Linked DNA regions of Homo sapiens. The protein of the gene in region 1 purifies or fractionates together with the protein of each later gene. This does not show direct contact. Each region holds a gene or a part of one and is shown in the gene's direction. Other genes may lie near its edges.

What was found. The genes of interacting proteins can lie anywhere in the genome.
Region 2: the proteins of FMR1NB (region 1) and RRP12 purify together in Homo sapiens (affinity purification with mass spectrometry; 2 studies listed by BioGRID and IntAct, with this or other methods). This does not show direct contact.
Region 3: the proteins of FMR1NB (region 1) and BOP1 purify together in Homo sapiens (affinity purification with mass spectrometry; 2 studies listed by BioGRID and IntAct, with this or other methods). This does not show direct contact.
Region 4: the proteins of FMR1NB (region 1) and PITHD1 purify together in Homo sapiens (affinity purification with mass spectrometry, with the first as the bait; one large-scale study listed by BioGRID). This does not show direct contact.

The regions. Positions count from the first base shown.
Region 1 is NC_000023.11:148,022,650-148,026,376, forward strand, and holds part of FMR1NB (FMR1 neighbor protein), read left to right. Parts: intron 1-2,215; coding exon 2,216-2,351; 3' UTR 2,352-2,364; intron 2,365-3,727.
Region 2 is NC_000010.11:97,363,150-97,366,876, reverse strand, and holds part of RRP12 (RRP12-like protein), read left to right. Parts: coding exon 1-135; intron 136-255; coding exon 256-431; intron 432-643; coding exon 644-769; intron 770-2,973; coding exon 2,974-3,023; intron 3,024-3,727.
Region 3 is NC_000008.11:144,277,748-144,281,474, reverse strand, and holds part of BOP1 (ribosome biogenesis protein BOP1), read left to right. Parts: intron 1-3,727. UniProt on the Homo sapiens protein: Component of the PeBoW complex, which is required for maturation of 28S and 5.8S ribosomal RNAs and formation of the 60S ribosome.
Region 4 is NC_000001.11:23,781,382-23,785,108, forward strand, and holds part of PITHD1 (PITH domain-containing protein 1), read left to right. Parts: intron 1-3,727. UniProt on the Homo sapiens protein: Promotes megakaryocyte differentiation by up-regulating RUNX1 expression.

The DNA.
Region 1 (3,727 bases):
TTTCATTGCCTATTAGGTAGAATAGCTAACCTTGGATCTCAGTAGTAAATGTTAGTCATATAGCCAGTTAGTGATGAGGCTGAACAAAAACCAAGTCCTCTGAAACCTAGGTCAGTTTTGAAATAATAAGGCCGTGTTGCTTTTTTGTTGTTAATTAAGGTGAAATGTACATGACCAAATTTAAAAGAAAATCTGTAGATAAAGAAAACATAGTCATTTTAATTATATAAAGTAGGCTATATTGACGTCACAGCATTAGAAAAAAGCATAAGTTCTCAATTTCTTCTCTAAAATCCTGAAATTCAAAAATTTCTGCAAACCTAAAAATTTTGTTGTATTCATTTTGCGACAAACCTGGACTGAGATTCCTTCTAGTCATTATTTAATTCTTAGAGTGAATATTCATATATTTGTTGCAGAAATGTTACTGTGTTTGATTATGAGATGCTACCCCAGACCCCATGGGAATGTCATGTAGTATTCAATATATCGTGTCATATTACCTTTCTAAATCCAAAAGAATCTGCATTCTCAAGCACATCTGGCCCCAAGGTACTGAGAACTGTGTAGTTGTTTCAGTTATTATTTTTTTTAGACTGTAGGTAACAACATGGCAACATAAATAGGCCATAGATAAATCATATAAATATATTTTTTGCCTTCATTCACCATTTCATTTATGCCCAGAGACATTTTTTTGATTAATTGGGAAAGAATTTGTTTCTTTGCCCCACATTTGTCTTACCTAGTGGAGCTCAGTGTCAACCCAGTAATACAGTTTTAGGGGAGAAAAGTTAGTATTATTTATCTTCAAAGTCATAATTTCAAAGGCAGACTTATCTTTCTCTGGGACCCACATGCTCAGAACCTTGTTTTTCTGTACAGCTAAGTAGCACTTACAAGGTCCTGGTATCTTCTTCTGCATGCTACCTAGCTTGAGCTGAGGATAGGATTATTTATCTGTCATTACCTCTTCATAATATTGTGTGCAAATCTTTCTTTTTTTCTGTCTTTGGATTTTTCTCTTTACCTCTGCCATGAACATTACTATTTTTTTTGGCTTATGTTTAGTTCTTTAGAAAGTAAAAGCCCTATAAGCATAAAAATCAACAAACATTTCCATTTCCTCTGTGGGATATAAAAAGTGATAAGGTAAGGTTCCAGTCTGAAGGAATTTACAAGCTTTGAGGAGAGAATGAGACAGGTTAGTGTAGTAGGAGAGAGATTGTACTTTAGATTTAGGTAGGTCTGGATTTGAATCCTGGTTCTACTACTGAGTAGTTTGGTGACCTCGGCAAGTTACTTTCCGTCTTGGTGCCTCAGTTTCCCCATATGAAAAATGGGAATGATAGAAATAGTACCTGCCTCATCAAGTCGTTAATGAAGATTAAATGAGATCATGCACGTGAAGTGCTTATTATGCACATAGGAAGTTTATCATACCTGCTGCTAGCCATTATTCACGAACACTGCAAAGTGGTCTAATGGAAAAAGCTTGTACTTTAGAGTCAAACAGACCTACGTTTAAATTCTAGCATCTCCATTACTAGTTATCTGTGACCTTGGGTGAATTATTTTACCTCTTTAAGCCCCAGATTAATCATTTGCAAAATAGGAAACACACTATCCACCTTCTAGGGTCGTTATGAGGATTTAATGAGAAAGTATATAAAGCACTTAGTGAAGTTCTTGGCATGTGGTAGCCTCTCAAGTGCCCCTTTACCAACTGTCCACACAAATACAAGGAGGTACGAGATTGTATACCCAATGACAACAGGAGTAAGTGAAGGTGCTTTGAAAATTGTAAATGCTAATACAATGTGAGCCATTACTGTGTAGATTTGAAGTTCATAGGAGGAAGGAATCCCTCTAAACTAGGAGTGGAAGAGCTGGCTTCCTAGACAAGATAATATCTAAACTTACCATTAAAGAGTGGGTAACATTGATGTCAGCACAGGGAAGTGGGAGAGCATTTCTGTTACAGATGGTCACATAATCAAAATGACTGTATAGAGAATAATAATGATGGTTATGATGATCAATATGAGCAAGCCAAGTGGAATAATTTCTATCGGATTTATTAAATCTGGTGAGTTAAAAATATCAGGTGGGAAAGTATAGTTATCTGGGCAAATATTTTTTTCCTTATAACCCTCCCATTGTTATTCTATCACTAATGAGAAATAAGGTTTCACTTGAACTTTTTATGTTACAGCGAACCGGCCGATGATTTACAAAGGCAGGACAACAGAGTTGTAACGGGTTTGAAGAAACAAAGAAGGAAGCGAAAGAGGAAGTCTGAAATGTTACAGAAAGCAGCAAGAGGACGTGAGGAACATGGTGACGAGTAGCAAGAGACCAAAGGTAATTGACAATAGGATATAAAGTTGAAGTGCTCAATCTCTGATTCTTGTTAGCTTTATATTTCTACCATCATCTTGGCTTGACTGACACATTTTTTTTAACCACACAAATGTTTGGATCACAGGAGGGCCAGCTTCTGAACAAATATTTATCACTAGAGATATTGAGATGGTAGGAAAATGGATAAGAAATGTGCCAAATTGTTTTGAGTGCCACATTATATGGTATACACAGGTCAGCTTTTCAGAGGGAGAAAAGAAGTTGATCCTGCCCACTCTGACTCTATGGCTCCCTGATAGACACCCTTGGTAAATAATGAAGGCCACAGTCCTCATATGTGACCACATCACATATCCAGGGGAAGGAGAATGGCCTTAGGAGTCTGACAGAGATGAGATTGAATCCTGGATCTTACCTGTTAGTCTCAGCTACCTGTTCTTCAAACCTGCACGATGTAGTGTTAGAAGAGGTTGAGAGAGGGATCCCAGAATCATACACTAGGGACTACTTTGTACAGGTTATACTTGTACAGGGTTATAGATCCCTAGCCTTGACTTGGGTCTCCTCCTCCCAAAATAACTGTGAAGGGACAAGTAAGAATAAAATGGTTGGTGAGAAACAAAGCTGTATCTCAGGGACTGGGAGTAAGGAGACCCAGGTCATTAACTAGTAGTGTTTCCATGGGCAGTGAAATTAACCTTTCAGTTCCTTGATACCATCATAGATTTTTTGTGTAACTTAAACAATATAATGTATGTGAAAATGTTTTGAAAATTGCAATGCAGTACCCAAAATTATGGTATTAAGTTACAGAGAAGCAAAGGAATGGAATGACAGGCCATTGAATTCCGTGTCAGGAGACTCTGGCTTTAGTCCCAGTTCTGCCATTATTTACAGTGTTTGCTTGAGCAAGTCCTTTAACTTTCTTGGGCTTCATTTCACCAATCTTCAGAATGAGAAGGTTGATTTGATGAATAGGAAAAGTGATTTATCTCAGAAGAAAAAAAAGAAAATCTTTATATAAGGTATCATATATATATATGGGATACATATTTACTTAAGGTAACACATAAATATGTATTACTATAATGCCTGTGTATTATTATTCATATAAATATATTACCTTGTATTAGTTTAATGCAATACATGTGTGCATATGTACACATGTACACACACATATATACATATGTAACATTATAACTAGACTAACAAAACTTGGTTTCTGTGGACCATTCACTGAGACATGGAAGTTAACTTTGTTATTCAGAAATTATCTCTGTAATGATATTTGCTCTAATCTGTTTTATATGTATGCCTCACAGTAACAGAAGATGATGTACTGGCAAACTGAAAATACATAAGT
Region 2 (3,727 bases), on another chromosome or scaffold:
GTACCACAGAGTCCTGGTCAACATCCGGAAAGCTGAGGCCCGGGCCAAGAGGCACCGAGCCCTGAGCCAGGCTGCCGTGGAGGAGGAAGAAGAGGAGGAGGAGGAGGAGGAGCCCGCCCAGGGCAAAGGTGACAGGTGAGACCATGTTAGGGCCATGGGACCCGGTGTCCCCCCAACCCAAGGGCCTGCCCAGGCAATACCCGCTGACCCCCGCCTCTCCTGGGAGCACTCTGACTGGGGGCTTTTTGTCCTTAGCATTGAGGAGATTTTAGCTGACTCAGAGGACGAGGAGGACAATGAGGAGGAGGAAAGAAGCCGAGGCAAGGAGCAGCGGAAGCTGGCACGACAGAGGAGCCGGGCATGGCTGAAAGAGGGCGGTGGGGACGAGCCCCTCAACTTCCTGGATCCCAAGGTGGCCCAACGAGTCCTGGGTAAGCACAGGGCTGGCCAGTGCACTCAGAAAACAGACTTGCCATGGTGCCAGGTTCTCAGGTGGTGGGTAGGGGGTGGCATCCATGGCAGGCCCATGGACAGGGCTGAGAGGCGCCCGTTTGGGATCCCTGAGCCGGGCTTGTTGGTCATGATGAGGGTGAGTAGCATGGGACTGGCCTTCCACCTCCTCATGCCAAACTCTACACCCCAGCCACGCAGCCAGGGCCAGGCCGGGGCAGGAAGAAGGACCACGGCTTCAAGGTGAGCGCCGATGGCCGGCTGATCATAAGGGAGGAGGCAGACGGCAACAAGATGGAGGAAGAGGAAGGTGCCAAAGGTGGGCCCAACGCGCTTGTCCATTCATTCACCGTGTTCACTTATTCCTTCGGTGATCACTTGCTGAGGAAGCGTGGCTAAAAACAGACCAGAGAAACTCTTCTCTCGGCAGCTTCCTCAAACTTTTTGAGTTTCTCAAACTTTTTTTGAGAAACATTAAGAAATCTTTTTATGTTGTAACCGAGCCATTTATACAATACATATTTAACTTAAAGGAAACTATCGGAAATGGTACTTCCCCTTACTGTGTGTGATACGCTGTTAGTCTCTTCTGTTTTTCTCCTCCTCCTCCCCCTCCTCTTCCTTTCTCCTTTTCTTCCTTCCTCTTTTTTTTTTTTTTTTAATGCAAACTTGGCTAAGGCCCTGAAGATGATTTAGAGGCAGAAAGAGCCAGAGGCTGAAACCCTCCCAACTTCCCAATCCCAATGTCTCACATTGCCCGGGAGTCCCTCCGGTGTGGCATCTCGGAGCTCTCTTTAGTCTTTCCTGGCCCCTCTCCACATATCCAGCCATTAGCTAAGAAACACTTAGGTCTTCGCCAGGCGTGGTGGCTCACGCCTGTAATCCTAGCACTTTGGGAGGCCAAGGCGCGCAGATCAGGAGGTCAGGAGATCAAGACCATTCTGGCTAACACGGTTAAAACCCATCTCTACTGAAAACACAAAAAATTAGCTGGGCGTGGTCGCGGGCGCCTGTAGTCCCAGCTACTCGGGAGGCTGAGGCAGGAGAATGGCGTGGACCCAGGAGGCAGAGCTTGCAGTGAGCCAAGATTGTGCCACTGCTCTCCAGCCTGGGTGACAGAGCGAAACTCTGTCTCAAAAAAAAAAAAAAAAAAACACCTAGGTCTTCAAGAACACACCTGTCATCCCTTTGTTTGGTTCCCAGTGCTGCGAGCTCTGGGCCCTTGTCTCACTGCACCTCCTAACTGGAGCCTCACTGCTCCACATGCACCCAACTCACCAGCCACACGACTGCAGCCGCTCGGTCAGCCTCTCCTTAGCTCCGTTTCCTTGCTTCAGAGTGGATATCATACAATCCTAATACCCACTTTTCCGGGTTGGAATGAAGATGAATCGGTGTAATGGGGACAGCGTATGTACTTGGTGTACATGTGCCTGTTATATTTCCGTGTCTAGTGTCTTCTCTGCTCCTCTCTCGCCCCTGTATACTTTCCCATCTCCTGTCCCCCTTGGTGCCCAGGCATTCCTGAGGCTGTCAGGACCCCTCCCCTCTCTCTCTGCCTTTCCAAACCCCCCTGCTCTTCAGGATTCAGCTCAAAGCTCCTTTTGTAGCCCTTCCTGGGCACCTCAGCCTTTAGGCCTGATTCCCCCAGAACTCCTGCCAAGCCCAGAGGAAACCCAGTCTTCAGCCCTTGGTCATGTGCTTTCTTTGGAGATAGAGTCTCGCTCTGTCACTCAGGCTGGAGTGCAGTGGCTCGATCTCGACTCACTGCAGTCTCCATGTCCTGAGTTTATGTGATTCTCCTGCCTCAGTCTCCCAAGTATCGGGGACTACAGGCGTGCGCCACCATGCCCAGCTAATTTTTGTATTTTTAGTAGTGATGGGGTTTTGCCATGTTGCAGACTGGTCTTGAACTCCTGACCTCAGGTGATCCTCCCTCCTCGGCCTCCCAGAGTGCTGGGATTACAGGTGTGAGCCACCACACATGGCCGGTCACGTGCTCTCTATCGTCTTTTGGTTGTTGATTGACTTTGCCTGAGTTTCTCTTCCCTCCAATTGGTCAGTTTCATACTTTATATTCCCACATGGAGCCCAGCACATACTGCATGGGGCAGAGATTTCAAACAGGAGAATGAAGCCTTCCTGGCACAGTGGGGGTGTGTATGGGGCTGCAGGAGCGCCTGACTCCCCCGGAAACCTGGGGCTTTCTTCAAATCTCAAACAGATGAAGGGTGGGTGAGTGGGAAAAGAAAAGTTTCAAACGAAGCCATATTCACCTCAAAAGTAGGATCACCGCTTCTTTGAGGGGCCGTTATCCCTAGGGCCTAGGGTGGGAAGGAGAAAGGGGCAGTGCTCAGGGGTCTCATCTCTTCTAGCAGAAGGATGATATTGGTCTGAGGAAGGCAATTTTCTGGGGCCGGAGTTGGTGGCCCCGCAGCCTGGTGAGCCAGGAGGGGGCAGAAGGAAAGGGTAGGTTTTGAGGAGCTCCCACAGCGCTCATGGGCCTCTCTTTTTTGGCTCCAGGCGAAGATGAAGAGATGGCTGACCCAATGGAAGATGTGATCATCAGGAATGTGAGTAGTTCCTGCAGATGGGGGGCTAGGGCTTCAGACCTAAGCCTGGGCTCCACAGCTTCTCACCCCCACCACACGTAGACATTGGAACTGCCCTGTTTCTGGAATGCTCGGTGCATCCTCACAGGTGTGCATAGCAGGCGGTCCAGAAGGTTGTGGGTGCCAGGCAGGACAGGGTGATGGTTGTCTAGTTAAAGGAGAAAGAAGGCAGAGACCCTTGTCTCTCTAGCGAGGGCATGTGCTATGCAGGGGCAAGGGCAGCAGCTTCCCTGTGTGCTCCTGCATGGGGTGGGGGCATCCACCGTAGGGGAGCATGGCTGTGTGCCCAGCACTGTGCTGAGGGCCCCACATAGCCTCACGAAGATAGGGACTCCGTTGTCCCAGTGACCAGAGGAGCGTACAGAGGTAAGTAGCCTGCCCAGGGTCACAGGACTCAGTCTGTGCAAACCAGGAATTTGAACCCTGGTTTTCCAGTCTCCTAAGCCCAGGAATTCAACCTCTTTGCCACCATTACCCCTGTTGACCTGGCAGTGCTGCCTGCCAGGATGGAAACAGCCTCTCAGCTGCCCCACCTGAACCAACAAGGGTGAAGTGGGCCCAACCCATCACCCAACACCTGTCAGTCTCAAGCTCAGTGGAACATTTCCATTCTGGAGCAGTTTCTTCCCTCTCTGCCCTTCCAGACTATGCCCCAGCCCATCCAG
Region 3 (3,727 bases), on another chromosome or scaffold:
AGAAGGCCGAAGACCTGGTATTAAACTGAGAGAAGGCCAAAGACCTGGTATGAAAGTGAGAGAAGGCCGAAGACCTGGTATTAAACTGAGGGAAGGCCGAAGACCTGGTATTAAACTGAGGGAAGGCCGAAGACCTGGTATTAAACTGAGAGAAGGCCAAAGACCTGGTATGAAAGTGAGGGAAGGCCGAAGACCTGGTATTAAACTGAGGGAAGGCCGAAGACCTGGTATTAAACTGAGGGAAGGCCGAAGACCTGGTATTAAACTGAGAGAAGGCCAAAGACCTGGTATGAAAGTGAGGGAAGGCCGAAGACCTGGTATTAAACTGAGAGAAGGCCTAAGACCTGGTATTAAACTGAGAGAAGGCCGAAGACCTGGTATTAAAGTGAGAGAAGGCCGAAGACCTGGTATGAAAGTGAGAGAAGGCCTAAGACCTGGTATTAAAGTGAGAGAAGGCCGAAGACCTGGTATGAAAGTGAGAGAAGGCCGAAGACCTGGTATTAAAGTGAGAGAAGGCCAAAGACCTGGTATTAAACTGAGAGAAGGCCTAAGACCTGGTATGAAAGTGAGAGAAGGCCGAAGACCTGGTATTAAAGTGATGATTCCAGATTTTTTTTTTTTTCTGAGACAAGAGTCTGTCTGTCACCCGGGCTGGAGTGCAATAGCCTGATCTCAGCTCACTGCAGTCTCCACCCCCCAGATTCAAGCAGTTCTTTCTCCTGCCTCAGCCTCCCGCTGTGATTACAGGTGAGCGCCACCAAGCCCAGCTAATTTTTTGTATTTTTAGTAGAGACAGGGTTTTCCATGTAGGCCAGTCTGGTCTCGAACTCTTAACCTCAACTGATCCGCCTGCCTCGGTCTCCCAAAGTGCTGGGATGACAGGTGTGAGCCACTGGGCCCGGCCTTCCCAGATAATTTAAGGAGAGTTTGGCCTGTGCCGGAGCATAATGCACACTCTTGGGCAGGGGATCCCGCCAGCGTCTCAGCGAAGGCTCTGGGAATGGCAGGTGGCAGGCCGCGTTGCTGCAGCGTGGGAACCCTGGGCTCGGGCCCCCTGTCGCTGTGGTTCTGGGGTCTGGGTGCTGGTGCCGTCTGCTGGAGAGTGGTCTGGAGCTGCAGCTCTGTGGAGTCTGGAAAGGGGCTGCCCAGTGATTCTCACCAGCTGGTCAGTGGTGGAGAAGTTGCCTGGGTGTGGACCACAGAGCTGGGGATGGAACCAGGGGCCAGGGCTGGTGGTAAACTCCGCTCTTGCCTCTGCCTGTGGCCTTGCTTTGGGTTCTTTTGAAGACTGCCAGCTCCAAGCTTCTTGGCCCCCATGGGGGAGTCAGGCAGCTGTTCTGCCACCTGCCCTGACACTTTGCAGCATCAAACAGATATTTTGTAGCATTCTGGATTCGAGGGGTCAGAGTTCAGGCCGAAAGCAGCAGGGTCAGTACACCCTGAGTACAGTGTCATGCTGAGGGGCCGGGGAGCCCCAGAGGGTTCTGGTACATTCCACCTGAGGAAGATCGACACTCAGCTCACATCCTGTGCTCTGGGACTTGGGTGAGGATCTCAGGTGAGCACAGCCGGGCCTCTTGTGTGTCCAGACCGCCCCTGACAGCCATGTTCACGAAGGGTACCCCTGTCCAGCTGTCCCCTCTCCCAGGGCTCAGGGCTGCAAGGACGTGGTCTCCTGTGCCAGGCAGAGCCACACGGCCTTCACGACCTCAGCCCAGAATCCTGTGGTGTCAGTGTGGGCTGCCTCCCTTGGGTGGGTAAAGCAGCCACAAGCCCACCCAGATTTGCGGCGGGGGGGACATAGACTCTGTCTCTTGATGCGATGAAAATCAAAGGTTTGTGGCCGTGTTTTAAAATGGTCACAGTCACCCTTACGCTTGCCAAATAGTCTCTTCCCCCAGCGCTCCCCAGAACCTCATTCCACTGCCAGGGTCTCATCTAAACCAGGCCTGATAGATGGGGGTCCTTGGGCCCCTCTCTGCACAGCTGTCTGCAGTGGGGCACCGAGTCACAGTGCTGTGGAGTGGTCTCTGGTCTGTGGTGGTCCTAAGGTGGCTGAGCACATGGCTGGTGGTGGTCTTGGCCATGGTGGTCTTGGCCCGTGGTGGTCTTGGGGCCTGTGGTGGTCGTGGCCCATGGTGGTTGTGGCCTGTGATCGTCAGGGCCCATGGTGGTATAGGGGACCTGTGGCAGTTGTGGCCTGTGGTGATCGTGGGGCCCATGGTGGTCTTAGGGCCTGTGGCGGTCGTGGCACGCAGTGGTCTTGGGGCCTGTCCTTGAGACCCATGATGGTCTTGAGACCCGTGGTGGTCGTGGCCTGTGGTGGTCTTGAGGCCCATGGGGGTCATGGCCCATGGCGGTCGTGGCCCGTGACGGTCATGGCCCTTGGTGGTCATGGCCCGTGGTGGTCTTGGGGCCTCTGGTGGCAGCACACATGGCCAGTGCCTCATGCAGGGTTGGCCTCCATGCCTGGGAACGACCCTGCCACTCTTGGGCTCCTGCCCCGAGTTACCTTCCTTTTCCCTGAGTAAAAAGGGATGTTTTTCGGCTGTATTTTCTCTGGGCTTTTCAGTTCCTGCTGATGTACTTTCTTTAAAACAAAATGTGGGTTTCCTAGGTACCTGTTGATGAGTCGTTGCTGTCACACGAGCCATCGGCACAGAGCTCTTGGATAGCAGCCTGTCTCTGTGCTGGGCACCCTGCGGCTAGCGTGGGCAGGGCCCTAGGGAGCCTTGGCCGTGCTGAGGTGCTGGGTGTGGGGTCTGTGGTGCAGCGCTGGGTTGTCTTGGTGTCCTTGGCACCCCGACAGCGATGTTCTGGCTCTGGTCTCTGGGCAAGTTAGGACTGCTTCCCTCCTGCTGTCCACGTCTCCAGCAGAACCCTCTTGTGGGCAGCCCTGGGAGCAGAGTTCTCTTCCCACCGAACCGGGACACCGCAGCTCTGTCGCCATCCTCTCCCAGGAGGTGAGGGCAGAGCCCGTGTCTCATGCCTGGTTGGTGGCAGTGGGGCACGGCCTGGCTGGCCTGATGCTGGGGAGGGGAGGCTCTGGTGTGGTCACAATAGGGGGCTCATGCGCTTGGACACCGTTTCTGTCTGGCTGAGCCCACTGTGGGTTTCTCCCTTTGGTCCTCATGGTGACATTCTAGCCCTGGGGCTGGGCAGAGGCCACGCAGGGTTCAGGGACTACAGCAGCCTTTCCTTGGCCCCAGCGGCCCCGCATCCTGCTGGCACCTCGTCCTTGCGCTCCCCCTCGGCGGCTCCCTGCCCACCCGTCGGTCCTTCAGACCCGCCTGCCTCTGCCCAGTGGCGCTCGCCCGCCCACTCTCTCAGCTTTTACTTCACCCTCACGCAACTCTCGTGCTCCATCGGGCCCGACCCCTCCTCAGTCAGGCCACGCACACTGCGGGTGGTGCTGGAGACCCTGGAGAATCCGGGCTGACTCCAGGCATGGGCGTGGCGGGAGGGGGTCCTGTCCCCAGGAGTCCGGAGCGTGGCGTGGGCTCATGTTCCGTTGTCTGTGTCGTTAGGGTTTTGGTGGCCTTTTCCTCTAATTTTTAAGTTAAAAAAAATACGTTCAATGCCCCACAGCATCTGCCTCCAAAATCTGAAGGGGCCTTCTAGGTCAGGCAGTTCCCAGCAGTGGCCGCCCCTGCCCGCACCGCCCCTGCCCGCACCGCCCCTGCCCTTCGGGCGCTGGGCCTGGCTGAGCGCCGTCGCCCCCTGGTGG
Region 4 (3,727 bases), on another chromosome or scaffold:
GAACCGCGGAGGTGCAGGTTGCAGTGAGCCAAGATTGCACCACTGCATTCCAGCCTGGGCAACAGAGTGAGACTCTGTCTCAAAAAAAAAAAAAAAAATTCATCTGAAAAATTGATTAAAGGACTTCCAGAGATTTAAGATATATTATAGTTGAGTATTAGAAACATGAATTTGAAAGCAAATCCATGTATTTAATCATTTTAAGGAAATAATACCTTTGATGCTTTTGGAGACTCATTTACTTGGAAGTTGATGGACTGACCTGAGAATATTAGGCATCCATGCTGCATTGTGATTTAGAGTGTGGGATCTGGAGTAAACTGGGTTCAAATAATGGCTGTACCACTTGTTAGCTTCATGACTTTGAGACCTTATCTTCTCTATGCCTGGATTTTCTATATCTAACATGGGAATGGTAACAGTGCATACATACCTCATAAGATTGTGGAGAGGCTTAAATGAGATAAAACATGTAAAGAGCTTAGATTAGGTCTGGAACACAGTAAGTGTCCAATTTTGGGTGAACAGATACGAATACATAGCCCTCAGTTCTAAGCACACTACATATATTATACTTTATCAAATGTAAGATGTCATTGATTGTAAAATGTACCATTATATTCAATTAATACAGAAAAAATGCTATTGAACTATGACATGTCATTGACACATCCAGAAAAATTAGATTGAGAGTATTAAATCAGGGAAGTTTGAACACAGATGAGGTGTTACATGTTACTAAAGAATTACCATTCAGCCAGGCGCAGTGGCTTACACCTATAATCCCAGCACTTTGGGAAGCCGAGGCAGGCGGATTACCTGAGGTCAGGAGTTCAAGACCAGCCTGGCCAACATGGTGAAACCCTGTCTCTACTAAAAACACAAGAATTAGCCAGTCATGGTGGCAGTCGCCTGTCATCCCAGCTATTCGGGAGGCTGAGGCAGGAGAATCACTTGAACCCGGGAGGCGGAGGTTGCAGTGAGCCAAGATTACTCCACTGCACTCCAACATGTGTGACAGTGCAAGACTCTGTCTCAAAAGAAAAAAAAAAAAGAATTACCACTGGGCTGGGCACAGTGGCTCATGCCTCAATCCCAGCACTTTGGGGAGGCCGAGGCGAAAGGATCACTTGAGCCTAGGAATTAAAGGTTATGGTGAATTAAGATCGTAAGATCATATACTGGACCCCAGCCTGGGCAACAGAGCAAGGCTTAAAAAAAAATTATTTATATAGTTTGAGATAGGGCCTTACTTTGTCACCTAGGCTGGAGTGCAGTAGTGTGATCATAGCTCACTGCAGCCTCGACCTCCTCAGTTCAAGCAATCCTCCCACCGCAGCCTCCCAAGCAGCTGGGAATACAGACGTGTGCCACCACGCCCAGCTAATTTATGTATTTTTTTGCAGAGATGGGGTTTTGTTATGTTGCCCAGGCTGGTCTTGAACTCCTGGGATCAAGCAGGCTGCCCACCTCAGCCTCCCAGTGTGCTGAGATTACAGGAGCTAGCCACTGCACCCAGCCAAAAAAAAATTTAAAAAAGTGAATTGCTGTTAATTTTGTTATCTGTTGATATTGTCAATTATTGTAAAATGGTATTAAATATATGTATTTTATTTTATTTTATTTTATTTTTGAGACAGAGTCTCACTGTGTCGCCCAGGCTGGAGTGCAGTGGCGCGATCTCGGCTCACTGCAAGCTCCGCCTCCTGGGTTCACGCCATTCTCCCATCTCAGCCTCCTGAGTAGCGGGGACTACAGGTGCCCGCCACCATGTCTGGCTAATTTTTTGTATTTTTTAGTAGAGATAGAGTTTCACTGTGTTAGCAAGGATGGTCTCGATCTCCTGACCTTGTGATCCACCCACCTCAGCCTCCCGAAGTGCTGGGATCACAGGCACATGTGTGTATATATATATGTATATCTACATATATACGCATATATATATACACATATATGTGTATATATACATATATACGCATATATATATACACATATATGTGTATATATACATATATACGCATATATACACATATATATGCGTATATATACGTGTGTGTGTGTGTGTGTGTGTGTATTTTTTGTTTTTTTAAGACGGCGTTCTGCTCTGTTGCCTAGGCTTGAGTGCAGTGGCCCAATCTTGGCTCACTGCAACCTCCGCCTCCTGGGGTCAAGCGATTCTCTTGCTTCAGCCTCCTGAGTAGCTGGGATTACAGGTACACACCACCAGGCCTGGCTAATTTTTTTTTTATTTTTAGTAGAGACAGGGTTTCGCCATGTTGACCAGGCAGCTCTCGAACTCCTGACCTCAAGTGATCCGCCTGCCTCCGCCTCCCAAAGTGCTGGGATTACAGGCGTGAGCCACCACGCCTGGCCCATACTGGAATATTTATAGGTGAAATGATGTGTCTGGGATTGCTTTAAAATATTGAGCTTAAGCAAAATCAGGCTGATAGGCAAGATCAACAAAATGTTGATCATCGAAGATGAGTGAAAAGTATGTGGAGATTCATTATGTAATCTCTGCTTTTGTGTAAGTTTGAACTTTTCCATAGTAAAGTTTTTTCAATATATGCGTTACTTAGAATCGATTCAATTTCATCTCCATACCAACCGTGTGGAATATGTACTATTACCATTCCCATTTTACAGATGAGGAAACAGAGGTTAAATCAGGTGCCCAAATTTACTCAGCTGGTAAGTGACAGAGCCAGGCTTGAATCCTAGAAAGTCTAGCTCTAGATTTTAACTACAGCGCTATACTGCTTCTCATTATGCCGCTCATAAATGTTTACTATTATTATTATTCTGTGGTGCATCATTCTTAGAAACACTTTGAAGTAAACATTTGCTTTCTTTTTTTTTTTTTTTTTTTTTTTTGAGACGGAGTCTCGCTCTGTTGCCCAGGCTGGAGTGCAGTGGCGCCATCTCGGCTCACTCCAAGTTCCGCTTCCCAGGTTCATGCCATTCTCCTGCCTCAGCCTCCCAAGTAGCTGGGACTACAGGCGCCTGCCACCACGCCCGGCTAATTTTTTGTATTTTTAGTAGAGACGGGGTTTCACCGTGTTAGCCAGGATGGTCTCCATCTCCTGACCTCATGATCTGCCCGCCTCGGCCTCCCAAAGTGCTGGGATTACAGGTGTGAGCCACTGCGCCCGGCGGCTTTCTTAAATTACATGCATTTTGCCCCAGCTAATATCGAGGCCTCTTCTGTGTGGGTGTGTCAATAAAACACCCTGGAATTGGTGGGGACATGTGGCTTAGTCTTTGGGAATTTGTGGGTTATAGAGACAGCTGCTTTTTAGATTACTCTTTGAAAAACATTTTCTTCTCTAGCAGTTTACTTTTTATTTATTCTGAGACAGAGTCTCTCTGTCACCCAGGCTGGAGTACAGTGGCGTGATCTTGGCTCATTGCACCCTCTCTAGCGGTTTGGATGTGAGATTGCAGTCTTTTGTGATCTTTCAAAATGGAAATCCTCATGTTATAAATGTTTTAAGAACTGTAAGGTGACTGAGTGTATGGCGTGGTTTTTGGACACAAAAAAATGCTTGAGCATTGGGTTACCTGATCTTTTATCTCTTAACTGTGTGTAATATGTTTCTGCCAAAGTATGTATTTTTCCCATGAGTAAGCTGTTTTATTTAATAACATCCTCAGTTTGGTCTGAATGTGCTGAGTTGTTTATTTTCTCCATGCATTTGCTGCATGTGACCTAGTTTGAGCCGTC